Linked DNA regions of Homo sapiens: regions 1 and 3 are each linked to region 2. Evidence: fine-mapped expression QTL. A gene starts in region 2. Each other region holds a variant in brackets. All regions are shown on one strand. Distances are between the middles of the regions.

Region 1 (5,231 bases), 100 kb before region 2:
TTAGTTGAAATATCAAGTAAGGTGAGGAATAAAGAAGCTGTTAATTGACATGGAAGTTGTTATTTACCTTAGAAAAAGCCCTTTTGATGGTGTGGTAGGGATAGATAATATTGAGTTGAGTTGAGTCAAAGGAGGACAACCCTTTCAAGAAACTTAGCCATTAATAGAAGGAAGTTAGGGTAGTTGTGTGAAGAGGAAAGTGGATAAAGGAAGGTCTTGACCATAAGTGAAGAAATTAATTTTAAATCCTGAAGAGAAGAATCTAGCAGAAAGGCAGAGATTGAAAAGAGGAGACAAAAACAAAAGTCCATAGTTGAACTTTGCTGATGAAGTTGGGAGGGATGGGATCCAGACCATGAACTGAGGAAAGACATTAGGGATGAAGAAAGAGAATGTGTGTAGGGGGTCATAGGTCTGTAGTTTTACAGGGTTTATGTTAGAAGTTGGGAGATATTCCCATGTGACAGCTTTTGTTTTCTCTGAGGATGACAGGCAAAGTATCACCTCCTAAGAGTGTAAGAGTAAGGTAGGGGATGAGGCAGATATTTAAAAAGAGGGAAGAATACAGATTTAAAATATAGCTTTGAAGTTAGGCACTTACTTCTATAATTGCAGCATTAATTGCAGCTTGAAAAGCTACAAACCCTTTTAGCCAGTACTTTGCCAAGTAACAAAAAATTTCACCATGCATGGCCCAACAGTGTTCTTTAAGGAAGAAGAAAAACATGTCCATAGTTATATAATGGAGTCAACTCCTGGAATTAAAACTTTAACTTTGGCTCAAAAATCAAAATATCTAAATGTTAGCTCAAAGCCTATGATTATATGATATAGAGGATTTTTAAAGTACTCTACAGAATTGGAGAAAAAAAGAACATATGATGGCAGGGGCAGTGGCTCATGCCTGTAATCCCACCACTTTGGGAGGCCGAGGCGGGTGGATCATTTGAGGTCAGGAGTTCGAGACCAGCCTGACCAACATGGTGAAACCCCATCTCTACTAAAAATACAAAAAAATTAGCCTGTAGTCCCAGCTACTTTGGAGGCTTAGGCAGGAGAATCACTGGATCTCGGGAGGCAGCGGTTCCAGTGAGCCAAGATCGCGCCACTGCACTCCAGCCAGGGTGACAGAGGGAGACTCCATCTCAAAAAAAAAAAAAAGGACATATGAGTAGTTGCCAAAATAATGAGACTCATCCTAAGTTAAAGACTGATGATTAAGTTCAGAGGGAAATGTATATTAATTCTTTACTTGGTTGTATTAATATTCCTATCAGTCATTCCAAACAGGGGATTCCATGAAGTATCAAAAAAAAATTATAATCAGTTTTTTTATAGTTACCTGTGTATTCAGAGTGCTCCTTTATAACTGGGATTCTATATCCCCAATTAAACTTCAGGCGATATGAGAAAGTATCACTAAATATAACTCCCACCATTTCATGGTATTTTTTTGGAAGTTCTATATCCATGGTCTCTTCATCTGGTGTCCCAATGACTGTTCTTCCTACCATGTATGAAAAACATAAATAAATAATCATGTAAACTTATTACTAGAGGACACAAAAACAAAATACAGTTGCTTGTTTTATATAAAATTAGTGGTATTATATATTATTTCTGGATAGCTGCCTCTTAGTAAAAGGCTGAGTGAAACTATTGTTTTAAGTTCAATGCAAATACATGAAAAGACACAAAGGACACATTGTCTTTTAAAAATCTGCAGCATATTGCTTTTAGTGTGATCTCATTTTGGTAAAGAAAACTGAATTTATGTGCCTATGTAAGCATAGAAACATACTCTATATATGACCATGTGCATATTTGCCTTGAAGGATATACACAATTTGAATGAGGGGTAGGGGAGGAGAGGGGGTAGGGGAGGAGAGGAAGTAGTGGTGAAGATGAAAGGAAAAGCTCTCATATTTTTGCTTCATACAAGTTTGTACTATTCAACTTTTTTTAAAGTAGATATTACTTTAGTGACTAAAATAATTTAAGAATTAAAAGGAAAAATATTTAAAGTAAGCAATACAAATACTCAGAATTTGGTGTTTTCTCTTTTTCTGCCAAGATTATAAACTGATATCACATGAAAATAGTACACTAGAGGTAAATTGTATACAAAAAATCAGAGTACAAAAATAAAAAATATAGTCTACCTACAGATTCTCTGAGGTCAAGAACACTCTCTAAGAATTAAGTGTATAGTAATCAGTGCATAAATGAATGAGTTTACAATCTGCAGGAGTAATCCACCCACTAAGTGTTTAATAGATCTATTACTAACAGAAGCTTTGAAAATCACTGGTCCAATTAGTGCCTCCTTTTTCACGTTTATGTATTATGTTCTAAAAATTTTATTAACTTTGTATCTCACTCAGGGTGAAATCTACATTAAGATGAAAAAGCTGTTTATTTTATGCTGTAGCCATA[C/T]CTTTCAAAACTCCTCATCCTTCCCAATATAGAGTCAGGCGGTGAAACTTTTATGAGGACAGTGCTAACATCACTGATTTTCTCTAGGGGTATAAAAAATACTGTCAAGGCCAAACCATGAATATTTATGCTAAAAAGCAAGAGTTAGATAAATGTAGAATAAGACAGTGAGAGAGGAGCTGTGGTTGGAACAGGCGAGCATGGTAGCTGGAATGAGATATTTTATATAAGAAAGAGACAGAGTCCAGTGGTCCGTGAGACTAAGACAGAAAGTGGCTATTAGCTTACACTGTGCATACAGGAAGAATAGTCCCTGAGGCTTCAGTAAATGCTTCATGAGTTCAGAAAAAATGAGGTAAATGACTACACAAAGGAAGTGAATAGAGACAGATCAGGGCAGAATCAACACTGTGGTCAGGCAGAACATGTAAACAATGCAAGTAAGGGAGGCCCACCAAAGTCAAAGCTCCAGAAACTGCAATGAAGAATTACAAAACAGGGTAAAGCAGCCAGGGATAACAATACCCATTCGAAAGCTTGGATAGGTTAGGCACAGAATATTAGCAACTCACATAAAATAATTAAAATTCAGAGTTTGGAGGTGTCCCTTGGCATGGCAATCCAGACACCAAAAAACTAAATAAAAGTTTCAGAAAGACAAGAAAAAGCAGTGATTAGAGCTGAGACGTTAACAGATTGGATAAAATGTACAAAAGGATGAAATGGCCAATGTTCAGAACCCTGGCAGAATGAGGGCTAACAACAAGAGAAATTTGATAGTAGGCTAAGATTGCTGAAGAAAAGAACATTTTATCCTGATACTTTCCCTATGCAGGAGCAAAGGCCTCTATGGAGAGTCCAGAGACCACAGCTGACCACCAATAGTTACTCCTAATGGCAGTAGAGATATAAAGGATGGTAGGCAAAGGTCTCACATAGTAAGTAGGACTCTCAGGTGTTCTTATTTCTTTATGAGATGCATACATCAAATTAATGCAGCATCCTACATAACATAGAGACATCTATTTTCTGAGTCCAGATATGCAGAAAAAGTCTTATGGGAAAAAAAAAAAAAAAGCCTCACTACTCTAAGATCAAGGGCTGTGAATTTGTTGACTTTCAGTAGCCAATACCTGATTTGATTTTAAATAATTTTAAATGCCCTGAGCTGTACATTTTAACTATTTTTATACACCAAACAGTAATGCTTTTTCAACACCATTGCTAAGCTTGAGTTTGAATTTCAAACACCTTTGATTTATAATTCCTATATACTGGGAACTATATTTATTTCAATCTCAATTGAAAATAATTAAATCCTTAAAATTTTTTGAAACTCTTTAAATTATAGAATACCAACCCAAATATAAAGTTTTTTAAGTTAAGTTTTGGAAAAGTGAAATTTGTATCATCTAAAATGGGTCCAATCTTTTTTTCCTACTGCAACAATATGTTCTAGTATAAAGGGCAAACGGTATGCATATCATTAAAAACAAACAAACAAACAAAAGTAAATCATTTCATCTGTTGCCCACCTACCCTTAGCTTCACACCAACCCCTGTACTGCATATATAATGAGAATCTTTGCCTCAGTTGAGAATCACTGACACACAGGCTAGGTAAGTAAATTCAACCTGCAAAAAGAACTTGAAAATTAAGTCACATAATACTGAAACATTGGTTATTGGACAACACACCTTTCATAAAGGAAGCCAAGGCCATCTTATTCATTATCCTTTGTGTTATGTTACTGACTGGTGTATATGCCACTACCAGGCCAGAGTCATTAAACTGATCCACGCTTCCCAGGACTTTAGGAGGTTGTTCAGGAAAACGGGTAGCTCTGAAGTGTTCCGAAAAGATGCACAAATATAGCCCTAGAAACAATGTTATTGTCCATTCCTCCAGCACACAAAAGAGAAATGAGCCATGTTATAACGTGGTCCAGACCAGTGAGAAACATCCAAACACATTTTTAAGGCAGAATGTATTGCCATTGAGCATGACTTCATTTCAGTCTGTAATTTTTTTCTGCCCAAATTAATATCTACCTTTTAAAGAAAAAAACACCCTTTCAAAAATACACAACTTTTGAGATAATATCAACAATTGCAATCAATCTTAACCCAGTGATTTAGCACCCCTATTAGTGGGACTGCCATTGATTTTATGCCCTCATATTTGAAGCAACGTAAGTATATGGCATCACACAGAAGATACTCTTGCCAAAAATATTTAACCAGAATTGGATCCTGCTTTTAGATCCAGCTCACTGCTTACAAAAAATATAGATGATAAAGGGATGACTTAAATGACAGCATGGAGAGGCAATCAGATAAAAAGAGAACATGGAATATTCAACAGGATAACTAGTTTTGTCTCATTGGTTCCTGAACAAATCAACCTTAAAAGACATTTTGGGGGAAATTTGGAAAATTGAATTTGGCCATGGAACTAGATGATATGGAATTATTTTTAATTTTGTGTAGTGGGATAGTGGTAATGTAGGGAACCAAGTTCTTAATTTTTTGAGATACTAAAATATTTAGCCATTACATATATTTTAGGGAAGAAGAGGAGACAGAGAGATGAAGCAAAGATGGCAAGATGTTAACAGCTGTCAAATCTGGATGGTGGATGTATAGGTGTTCATTGTACCAATATTTTCACATTTCTGGATTGACATACTTTTTTTAAATTCTAGTGAGTAATAAATATAGATGTATCCTTCTTCAATATACGAAGCAAAATATTTGATCGAACTGCTTCGGAAGCTATTGCAGAAATTTAAAAG
Region 2 (5,231 bases):
AATAAAGTTAGACACTGTCACTAACTTTGCAGAGAGATAAAATTTAATATAATGTGATAAGAGAGAAAGAGCCTGGAAAGGAGTGGAATGGAATTTCCAGGCAGAAAGAAAAGAATGGTAAAGCTAGACTCCCAAACAAAAGGGCTTGACTTTTGTGAAGAACAGGGATACCTGCCATATGGCAGAGGCATAAGGCAAAGTGAACCGGAGCAAGGGGTGCAGATGTATGTTCTAGATAACACGGTAAAGGCAGGCATTGGGAATGGATTATGAAGTTTCTGGTATCCAAAATTAGACACCCTAATTTGTGCACTCATATCTTTCCTCTACTGTACTTTTCACAACTGTGAGTCATGTTTAATTTCCTAGCAATCACATATTCCACTAGTCCATCACTTTCCCAATCCCCAAATCTCCAAAGCTTCCATCTGTAGGATCACCCTCAGATTATGACCTTGAATCCTACTTTACTGAGAAAACTGAAGCAATTAAAAGAGATTTCCAAAATCCACCACAAAGTAATGTTATACATTTCAACAATGTGCCATTTCAGCCTAAACTGAAGACTGATTTCATTACAACTCTGAAACACAAGAAATTAAATGCAATCTGGTATTAGCTACACTTTTAAACTAAGATATTTTTGGAATGAGAAATTAGGAACATATCTGGCACATGAAACAAACTCCTGCCTAGCTACATCATTTGCTTCTCAATCAATGAAATAAAAGCACTACAAAATATGCCTTTTAGCTTAAAAAGGGATAAATTATAAATGCTCTCATCTTCTTTATTGCTTTAAAATTTACTGTAAGGTGGTGCAATAATAAAACAAAATGCAGTCAGGTGCAGTGGCTCACGTGGCAATCCCAGTGGGAGGAAGGCTTGAGCCCAAGAGTTCAAGATCAACCTGGGCAACATAGAGAGACACTGTCTCTACCAAAAAAAAAAAAAAAAAAATAGCCAGGCGTAGGGGCACACAACTGTGGTCCCAGCTACTTGGGAGGCTGAGGTGGGAGGATCACTTGAGCCTGCGAAGTCAAGGCTGCAGTGAGCCAAGATCCTGCCACTGCACTTCATCCTGGGTGACAGAATGAGACCCTGTCTCAAAAAAAAAAAAATGCTAGTTGTCAATATAATTTAACCTAAATTTTATCACAGTGTTTCTTGCTGAGGGAGAAAATAACAATGCAATGGTACACAGAGGACAAGTCATCCAATAAATTTTCTTATGCATAATAGGTCCTTAAAAGCTTGCCCTTAAAACTATTTTTAATCCAACTAATTTACATACTAGAAAAGTTATGACTTAGTACAATATCATAAAATTCTTTTATGCAATCACCCTCTCAACTAAACTCAAGGACAGAGATTATAAATTGTATTCATATCGGTACTCTTGGCACATAGTATGGTATCTGGAATGTAAAAGACATGCAACAAACCAGCCTGGGCAATATAGCAAGACTTCGTCTCTGAAAAACAAATAAAAAATTACCTGGGCGCAGTGACACACGCCTGTAGCCCCAGCTATTCAGCAGGGTCCCTAGAGTCCAGACGTTCAAGGCTGCAGTGAACTTTGATCGCACCACTGCACTCTAGCCCGAGACGCTGTCTCTTTAAAAATAAAAGACATGCAATACACATGGAATGTACTAATAAATTTGCTCTTATAGTGAATGTAAGATTTCCCTACACTAAATCTGTTTGAAAGGAAATATACTCAAACAGCACATATGCAAAGATTAACGCCTCTTTAGTTTGATTTTAACACAAATACCCACAAAGCCCTAACTGCCCTAATAATGTTCCCTACTATGGAGTCTTCCCTAAAACACATACAATATTGCTCTCCCGGCAAACACAAAATATACTAAATAAAGCACCAGAATTAGGGTCTGGCAGCCCGGGTTGGAATCTCAACTCCATCCTTTTACTAGCTGAGACCTTAATAAGTTACTTAACCTCTTTGAGGCCCATTCTCCACACCTGCCCAACTGGAATAACCCCCTCCAATCCTACAGGGTTGCTGTCAGAATGAAAAGAGCTAATACCGAGCCTGGCTTAAAGCTGTAGTCCAGCAAATACTCCTCTTCCCTTAGATTCCTTCAGAACGCCCTTGTAGAAAGTAAACGTGGTTATTATCTTCATTATTTTCGGACTTATTTATTTAAAACGTAAATCGAAGCCTGAGGAGCCCAGGGGAAAACCTCCTTCAGCTTAATAGCTCCAGCCTGCCCAGCTTTCCGATCCAATTAAGTATTTCCATGCCTGGAGCTCCTATTCGTGTTTTAGGATCAGGGAATTTCCCTCCCAAACTGTGTCATGAGATCTGCGCATTTTCTTCTCACTGAAACTCCTTTTAACACGCAAGGTAATGATCCGCGCGTAACCTCGCAGGGAAGAGCAAGCGCTCATTACCCAGCTGTTCAGACGGAAATTTACATCAATATTTGTTTTCCTTCTTTCCCTGAGGTTGCTGAGGGTGGAACGACAGCGTCCAGGCAAAGGCAGTGTCCCGAAGTCCCACGGCCGGACCCGGTCCCAGGGGAGCCTCGCGGAGCCCCCGCCGCAGGGCCCCGACCCCCTCACGTCCGCATCCTGGGCGCTCCCACCGCATCCCCGAGGCTGGCAACCCGCGCTTCCCGGGAGCTGAGGGAGGTCTGTTTCCCTCAGCTCGCCGCCTCTGCCCGCTTCCGAGCCCGCTTCACCCCACACCTCAGACGCCGAACTCCCCTTCTCTCCCCGCCGTCCCTCGCTGGCCAGCCCCTCCTCGTCCCCTCAACTCCCCCAGGGACGGCTGTCCCAGGCTAGCCTCAAGCGCCGCCGCCGCCCGCGACGCCCGCCTCACCTCAGGGCCCGAGCCGCAGAGCTGTCAGGCCTGGACGCGCTCAGTCTGTTGACTCAGTGCGGGTGACCCAGCTGGGATCTGTGCGAGGGCGCGGCCGCGCGCACCCGCGCGCTCCTGGCGCAGGCAGAGCTGGCGGCGCCGAAGTCGCGCCCCGCCTCCTGCAGAGCGCACCTGAGGGCGGGGCTCCTAGAAAGCGCCGCTCCGCGTACGGGCGCGCTTCAGACGCTCGGCCCCGCGCGTCCCGGCGCACGCAGGCAAGCAGCGCGCCCGGAAGAGGAGAGCGGCTGAGGGTGGGGCGAGCGGTGGCGCGCCGCTGCCCAGGGCCCCTGAGCCACTAGAGTCGGGCCTCGTGGCTCTTCCCCAGGGCCTCCCACGCCTGGGTTCTGCGGGGATCTCGCCACGCTCTTTCTGGAGGCACGGGCAAAAACCACGGCCTCGTGTCTCAGTGGTAAACCTGCCGCCTCTTAGCGGGTGACCTTGGCCCACGGCCCTCTCCTCATCTGCCTCGCCCAGTCACGTCTCCTCTTAAGCATCCTTGCCGTCTGTCTCCTGGCATTTGGATGGGCCTCTCTGAACGCGTTTTGAGTCCTCTGCAGCCCCGCTTCCTCCCGCCGCGGCATCTGGAGTGCTGTGGCCCCGTTTCCGTAACTCTTGCCTCCCCTCCCCAGCCTCCTCATTGGCCCTCACACCCCGACCTGGGAGGTCCTCCCACTGAGGGTGCTTGTAGTTCGCGGAGTGTCCTCATCAAAGACTGGGAATGCGGCAGATGCTGAATTTTCCAAACGGCCTGAGACACATGACATCTGTGAGAGACTGGATACTGCACTTACTTTGCTAAAAATATAATCTAGTGTTTTGAGCTTCATTACTCAAAGTGACCTAAATGGGGTCAAAAGTTATTAACACTAACATTACGTATTTTCCTCTCCACATTTCTGTATAGTCACATTCCCTTGCACAAAGACTTTTTTTTTATTCTGTCAATCCTGTGTACATCATGTTTTTTTTTTTTACTTGTCTTTGTGTTATCTGCTTCTCGAATTTAAACCAGGTCTCCCCAACATGCACTCTGCTTTCTAAATTCTTAGGGGAAAAACAAACAAACAAGGAATCAAGTTTTACTTATGGAATATGAATTAAATAGAAAATTCAAAGAGGTTCGTCAGAATCCTTGATGATTAAAACAGCGGTCCCCAACCTTTTGGGCACCAGGGACCAGTTTCATGGAAGACAGTTTTTTCTGGGGGAGGGAGGATGGTTTGGGGATGATTCAAGCACATTATATTTACTGTGCACTTTATTTCTACTGTTACTACACTGTAATATGTAATGAAATAATTATACAACTCACCATAATGTAGAATCAGTGGGAGCCATGAGCTTGTTTTCTTGCAACTAGACAGTCTCATCTGGGGGTGATGGGAGACAGTGACAGATCATCAGGCATTAGATTCTCATAAGGAGCACGCAACCTAAATCCCTCACATGCGCAGTTCACAATAGGGTTCTCGCTCCTATCACAATCTAATGCCACTGCTGATCTGACAGGAAACGGAGTTCAGGCCCTAATGCCAGCCATGGGGGGCCCCTGTAAATACAGATAAAGCTGCACTCACTTGCCCTCCGCTCACCTCCTGCTGTGCTGCTTGGTTCCTCGCAGGCCACAGATCCCGGTAGCAGTCTCTGGCCTGGGGATTGGGGACCCCTGGATTAAAAGATCTAGCAATGGGGATGGGGGAAAGGGAGATAAGTATATTCAAAAAACTACACCAGGAAACTAAAGAAGGCATGTAATGAAAACTATCCCTGATATATTCTGTCTCTTTTGGAAACATCTAGAACATTTTAGTTACAAATTCTCAATGGCCTAGGATTTGGGGCCAAGTAAAGAAATATACATGAAAGATAAACTTGGTTAACATGTTACTGAACCATACTTTCACCCCAACACTTCTCACTAGTAGCCTTAACCTGCCTTAACTTCAGAAGTCTACTCATTTCTACTACTATTCTAGGCATTTATTTCTTACATTTCTTATCCTTGTAATGTTCTCTGTCATTCATTCTGTCTGCTCATGCTTTTACTCTTGTTTCTAAATGACATGACCAAAACCCAATTCTCCAAAAATCTCATCACCCTGGACAAAATGATCTCACTCTCCTCCCAATTGCCTACATACTACCATCTTGTTCACATCATTTTATTTACTTACCATCTCTTCAATTAAATTGTAAATAGTCTTAGGTTAAGAGCTTTTTCTTGACTTGTCTTTTTCTTTTCTTTTCTTTCTTTCTTTATTTTTGTGACAAAGTTTTGCTCTGTCACCCAGGCTGGAGTGCAGTGCCATGATCACAGCTCACTGCAACCTCTACCTCCCAG
Region 3 (5,231 bases), 73 kb before region 2:
AGCTGTAGTACTTTTTCCATCATATCATATCAGTGAATACATGATATCTGCACAACATCGTTTAGTTAAGGTAGTATTTGCCAGCTTTCTCAACTGTAAAGTTACTATTTTTCTCCTTCTGTCGTTCATTTTTTACAAGAAACTGGCTAAGTCCCGTCCAAACTTGGGGGATAGGAGATTAAGCCTCCTCCCTTGAAGTGGGTATTATCTACATATATTATTATTTGGAATTGTTCTGTAAGGAAGATGTACCTCTTCTCTGACACATTTCTTTACTCAATTATTTATTTATGTAAGTAGAAACTCATATGTTTATTTCATATTTGTGTTACATAATTAATCCAATATATAACAATTTTTTGAAATAACAAGTACTATGCCTAAAAATAATATTCCAAGTTATTGAAATATTAAGTGAATTCAAATTCAAAGTAGACAGCCATATTTTTAAAAAACTCAACATACTTCCAAGTCAATCTATCAAAAGCTAACTCAAAAACTAAAATATTTAACATTTAAATTACTAACTATTGCCATGTTTTTGAAATGATGACTTTCAAAATCCAACCCCCAACCTCTTCCCCTGAATGGCACGCTATTTAGACATCAACCTTAACTGCCCAGACACCATGATAGCTACTCGATCACAGACAGCCTCTGCCTCCTCCATATAGTGAGTGGTCAGAATAGCAGCCCGCTTTCTGTTTTTAAATGCAGTTCGAATTGCTCGCCTATAAAACATAAATAAAACAAAAAGAGAGGAACACATCTGTTTGTTAAAAAAAAATGGGTTTTTAAAAATCCAACCGGTTGGTTAATTAAGTTAATTAAAACTTACCAAATATCAATTGCTATGGCTATTACATCCTGCCCAACTATGATTTTTTTTTTTTTGAGACGGAGTCTCGCTCTGTCCCCCAGGCTGGAGAGAAGTGGCCCGATCTCGGCTCACTGCAAGCTCCACCTCCCAGGTTCACACCATTCTCCTACCTCAGCCTCCTGAGTAGCTGGGACTACAGGTGCCTGCCACCACACCCGGCTAATTTTTTTTTGTATTTTTAATAGAGACGGGGTTTCACCGTGTTAGCCAGGATGGTCTCGATCTCCTGACCTCGTGGTCTGCTGCCTCAGCCTCCCAAAGTGCTGGGATTACAGGCGTGAGCCACTGCGCCAGGCCATGACTTTTATATTCTAATTTATTTTCCCTTCATTTTGAAAGCTTGTCAAATGGAAAAAAAAAATCTATGATTTCAAATGTTAATATGGGCTAAAAGTATGACAACAAATAAATTTTAAAATTGATGCCTTTTCATGTTATAACCAAAACAGGCTTTGAATCATAAGAAAACCGTAACATGCATCCAAACCAAACCTTACATTTTATAGACATGGAAGTTGAGGCTTAAAGAGTTGTTCAAGGCCAGGCACTGTGCCTCACACCTGTAATCCCAGCAGTTTGGGAGGCCGAAGGGGGCGGATCACCTGAGGTCTGGAGTTCGGGACCAGCCTGGCCAACATGGTGAAACCCTGTCTCTACCAAAAATACAAAAAATTAGCCGGGCTTGGTGGCTCTTGCCTGTAGTCCCAGGTACTTGGAAGGCTGAGGCAGGAGAATCGCTTCAGCCTGGGAAGCAGAGGTTGCAGTAAGCCAAGACGGCACCACTGCACTCCAGCTTGGTCAACAGAACAAGACTCTGACTCAAAAAAAAAAAAAAAAAAAGAGTTGTTCAACTAATTAGTACTTTACAGGCACTGCATAATGACATTTCAGTCAATGATGAAACACATTTCCAACAGTGATTCCATAAGATTATAATACTTTTATAATGTATCTTTTCTGTGTTTAGATACATCTAGATACACAAATACCATTGTGTTACAACTGCCTACAGTATTCAGTGCAGTGACATGCTCTACAGATTTATAGCCTAGGAGTAATAGGCTATACCATATAGTCTAGGTGTGTAGTAGGCTATAACCACCCAGAGATTTATATAAGTACACTCTATTATGTTTGCACAACGACAACATCACCTTTCTCAGAATGTATCTCTGTCATTAGGCAATGCATGACTGTCCTAGAAAGAGTCTCAACATAAATTTAAGACACTATTATTATGGAAAAGATCATTTGTATGCTAAATGACTAGAAAAAAACTTAAAAACTATTCAGAACACTAGAACTCTTTATCTTAATAATGACTCATGCTTATTTCTGTTTCGGAATATGTAAAATATTATGAACACTTCATGAAAAATATGCAAAGTTTTAAAAGCTTAAGGAAATCTCTAAATCTATTTAATTTTTAATTACTAGTGTATCGTTTGAATAGGATTTAAAATCAAGATGTACATATAACTAACATTAAACTATTATAATAAAAGAAACTGTTCTATTCTAAAGTATCATGTACTGTGTCACAAGTACCATACTCACCACATGTGCTGTTTGGCTTTGGGATCCATACCTGTAGATGGTTCATCTAGCAAAGTAATCTGAGGATTCCCTAGCATACTTAGAGCAAAACACAACTACATGGAAAGAAAAAGATGGGTGGGAAATTAACAAAGGTTCACTATAAGGAATCTATCAAGACAATATCAGGTACTAAACTATCAATAAAAATACAGGCATTATTTGGTGT[T/C]TAATGAAAGTACCTTTCGTTTGATTCCTGCAGGTAGTTTCTTTACAGTCTTCTGAAGATGTTCTTTTAAATCAAGTGCATGTGTTATTCTGCAAAATGAACAATACAAAATGAGAATACCATGATATATATAAACACAAATACCAACTGGGTGTGATCCCTGATGTTGTTTTCTCTAGAATAGTTACTTAGTCGAAGCTTATTATAAGTAGGTAAGGGCAAAAGTCTCCAATTTACATCATTTTAAATAAATTAATATCTTGATAAAATGGTTCACTTTGAATTAAAATAAGTTTCATGATATCTATAGGTATATTTATCCTGTAACTAGAAATTAAAAAATGACCTTTTTATAACTATCATAATTTACAGCTATCAGTATATTTTCATATATCATAAAGAATATATGAAAAAGTAATAAACATTTTCTATAAAAATCATTGTCCACAGAAATGCTTGTTATGAAATTTTAAAAATATGAAATGCAAACCTTTCCTCTAAGTAACAAAAGGAATCTAAAGACAATTATTTTACCGACTTATGACTTCTTTCATGTCACTTGCACTCATTCCTTTGACAGCTCCATAAATTTCAAAATGTTCCTGCAATGTAGTATCTGGCCACAAAGGGTTTATCTGAGGACAGTAACCCATACACTTCAGTGAATCATCATCTTCACTTGTCTCTGAAGAATAATCTCCTAAAAATACCTATAGAAACACAAACCAATTTTTATTATTTTGCTTAATTTACACTGTGAAGGAAGTGGCAAGTACATTAATTAAAACCCCTTCCTACAGCCAGACTAATATCAAGTCAGATTTGTACTCCTTTATTGTCATTATTATTATTATCACTAAGTAACTGAGACTACAAACATGTGCCACCATGCCTGGCTATTGCTTTTTTCTTTTTTGAATTTTAGGAGGGAAGATGTCTCACTACGTTGCCCAGGCTAGTCTTGAATTCCTGAGCTCAAGTGATCCTCCTGCCTCAGCCTCCCAAAGTGCTGGGATTACAGGAATGAGCCACTGCACCCGCCCAGATGTTTTACTCCTTTTTGATGTTTGATGATGGAAGGACATATAAAGCTAAGTCAGAGTTCAGAGACTTGGTCAGAAAGGGTAATACAGAGTTGGATGAAAAAGCAAGATGTAATTCTAATGATCAGGGAGCTTCACTGGAAGGTGACATTTGAGCCAAAGAGGTAAGTGAATTTAGTATATGTATTTCTAGGGTATAAGGTATAGCCAAACAAAGAAAACATCTTGGGCAAAAACCCAAAGAAAAGAGTATGCCTGGCATTTTCCAGGAAAGCAATGAGTTAGTGTGGCTGGCATAAAGTAAGCAAGGGGAGAGAAGCAGGAAATGGGATCAGGGTAGTTTTGTGAAGTATCCACAAAGTGGTCAGTGACATGCTTATAATAAAAGACTAGCTGATGGCAGGTCAAAACAAGCTCCCATATCTCCTGAAGCTAATAAAACTGTCTTCCATTAAGTTGGTAGACAAATAACTCACGCATGTAAGCATTACAAAAGCAGAAATACTGTATATGCGTGTGTCTACATGTGTCTATGAAAATTTCACCATGCACATTATTTTTACAGATAACCCAAAAGATCATAATTTGATCAGGCTGTACAAAAAATTCTAAAAATATACATAAAAATTGAATATAAAATCCGAATTTGTCACTAAAAGTTTATGTTAATTAACAATATAAATCACATTCAACATATCCTATACTCTTATATATCATACCTGGCCTGAAGTTGGTTCAATATCACCAACCAGAATATTAATAATTGTGCTTTTGCCAGCACCATTTGGACCCAATAGTCCTAAGATCTCTCCTAAAGGAATTGAAAGAAAAAAAAATCATAATCAAATCATACTAAAAGTAGAAATTACTCTTCTAGAAAAGTTATGTAAGGAAAAATTAAATACCAGCCTTTTTTCACACAGAAAGAGATGTATTTAGTTGCCACTTTCTTTACTTTTCTTGAAAGAAGAAAATCTTTCTTGTCATCATATTCTTTATGCAAATTGCTGACCATAATGGATGGTTTCTAATAAGAAAAATTGTATTTAAAAAGAAAGTTATAAAACTTATCATGAAATGACAGGCTGCACATACCTCATATCCATATTACAAAAATTATATTGGCTAATAAGGGGATACTGTACAAATAAATATCCATTTATGACTGAAATTCTGGCTTATTCAAAAGTAAGTAAACGAAGTATTTTTTTCCAAGAAAGATTTTTTTCAGATTGCTTCATATGCAAAGAAAAATATTTTTCAGATTAATTTCTATATACCGGGAATTGATCATTTCATATTTACTATGACTTAGCCATAAAGAATAAATTACCTCCTCACAACACTGGCAACCCATCAGCTCTTTGACCTTTAGTCTTTCAGCTTTGACATCTTCATCTTCATCCTCATTGTCTGGTGGTTCTGGAAGCTTCCTATTTTTAGACTTCGTTGAAAGGTTTCTACATATATATAATAAATATAAAAGACAGTAGGTTTTCAAATAATTAAAATAGTAAGAAATTCAGATACTAGGTAGAGAAAA

Alleles and levels. Positions count from the first base shown, and alleles are read on the strand shown. Sizes are in standard deviations (SD) of each study's normalised expression.
As copies of C replace T in region 1, the expression in visceral fat of the gene that starts at base 2,933 in region 2 goes down (small effect, 0.24 SD a copy in GTEx).
As copies of T replace C in region 3, the expression in esophagus muscle of the gene that starts at base 2,933 in region 2 goes down (small effect, 0.21 SD a copy in GTEx).

Evidence for each region. PIP is the estimated chance that this variant, and not a neighbour inherited with it, causes the effect.
Region 1: its variant is the best candidate, but not a certain one, in a credible set for the expression of ABCA5 in visceral fat (GTEx, PIP 0.86).
Region 3: its variant is the best candidate, but not a certain one, in a credible set for the expression of ABCA5 in esophagus muscle (GTEx, PIP 0.85).

The regions. Positions count from the first base shown.
Region 1 is chr17:69,221,191-69,226,421 of GRCh38, forward strand. It overlaps ABCA10 (ATP binding cassette subfamily A member 10), which reads right to left. Exons shown (of 39, transcript NM_001377321.1): 3 at 4,135-4,339; 4 at 1,343-1,507; 5 at 602-705. The coding sequence starts at 4,168. Among named protein-coding and RNA genes, the nearest start is that of ABCA10, 5.0 kb to the right of the region's middle. The variant C/T (reference allele first, on the strand shown) is at 2,437.
Region 2 is chr17:69,324,201-69,329,431 of GRCh38, forward strand. ABCA5 (ATP binding cassette subfamily A member 5) reads right to left here and starts at 2,933. Exons shown (of 39, transcript NM_172232.4): 1 at 2,852-2,933. RefSeq lists silencers at 2,620-2,709, 2,840-3,219 and an enhancer at 3,300-3,439.
Region 3 is chr17:69,251,136-69,256,366 of GRCh38, forward strand. It overlaps ABCA5 (ATP binding cassette subfamily A member 5), which reads right to left. Exons shown (of 39, transcript NM_172232.4): 29 at 5,022-5,148; 30 at 4,598-4,715; 31 at 4,408-4,499; 32 at 3,180-3,355; 33 at 2,659-2,734; 34 at 2,438-2,532; 35 at 612-731. Among named protein-coding and RNA genes, the nearest start is that of PRO1804, 19 kb to the left of the region's middle. The variant T/C (reference allele first, on the strand shown) is at 2,646.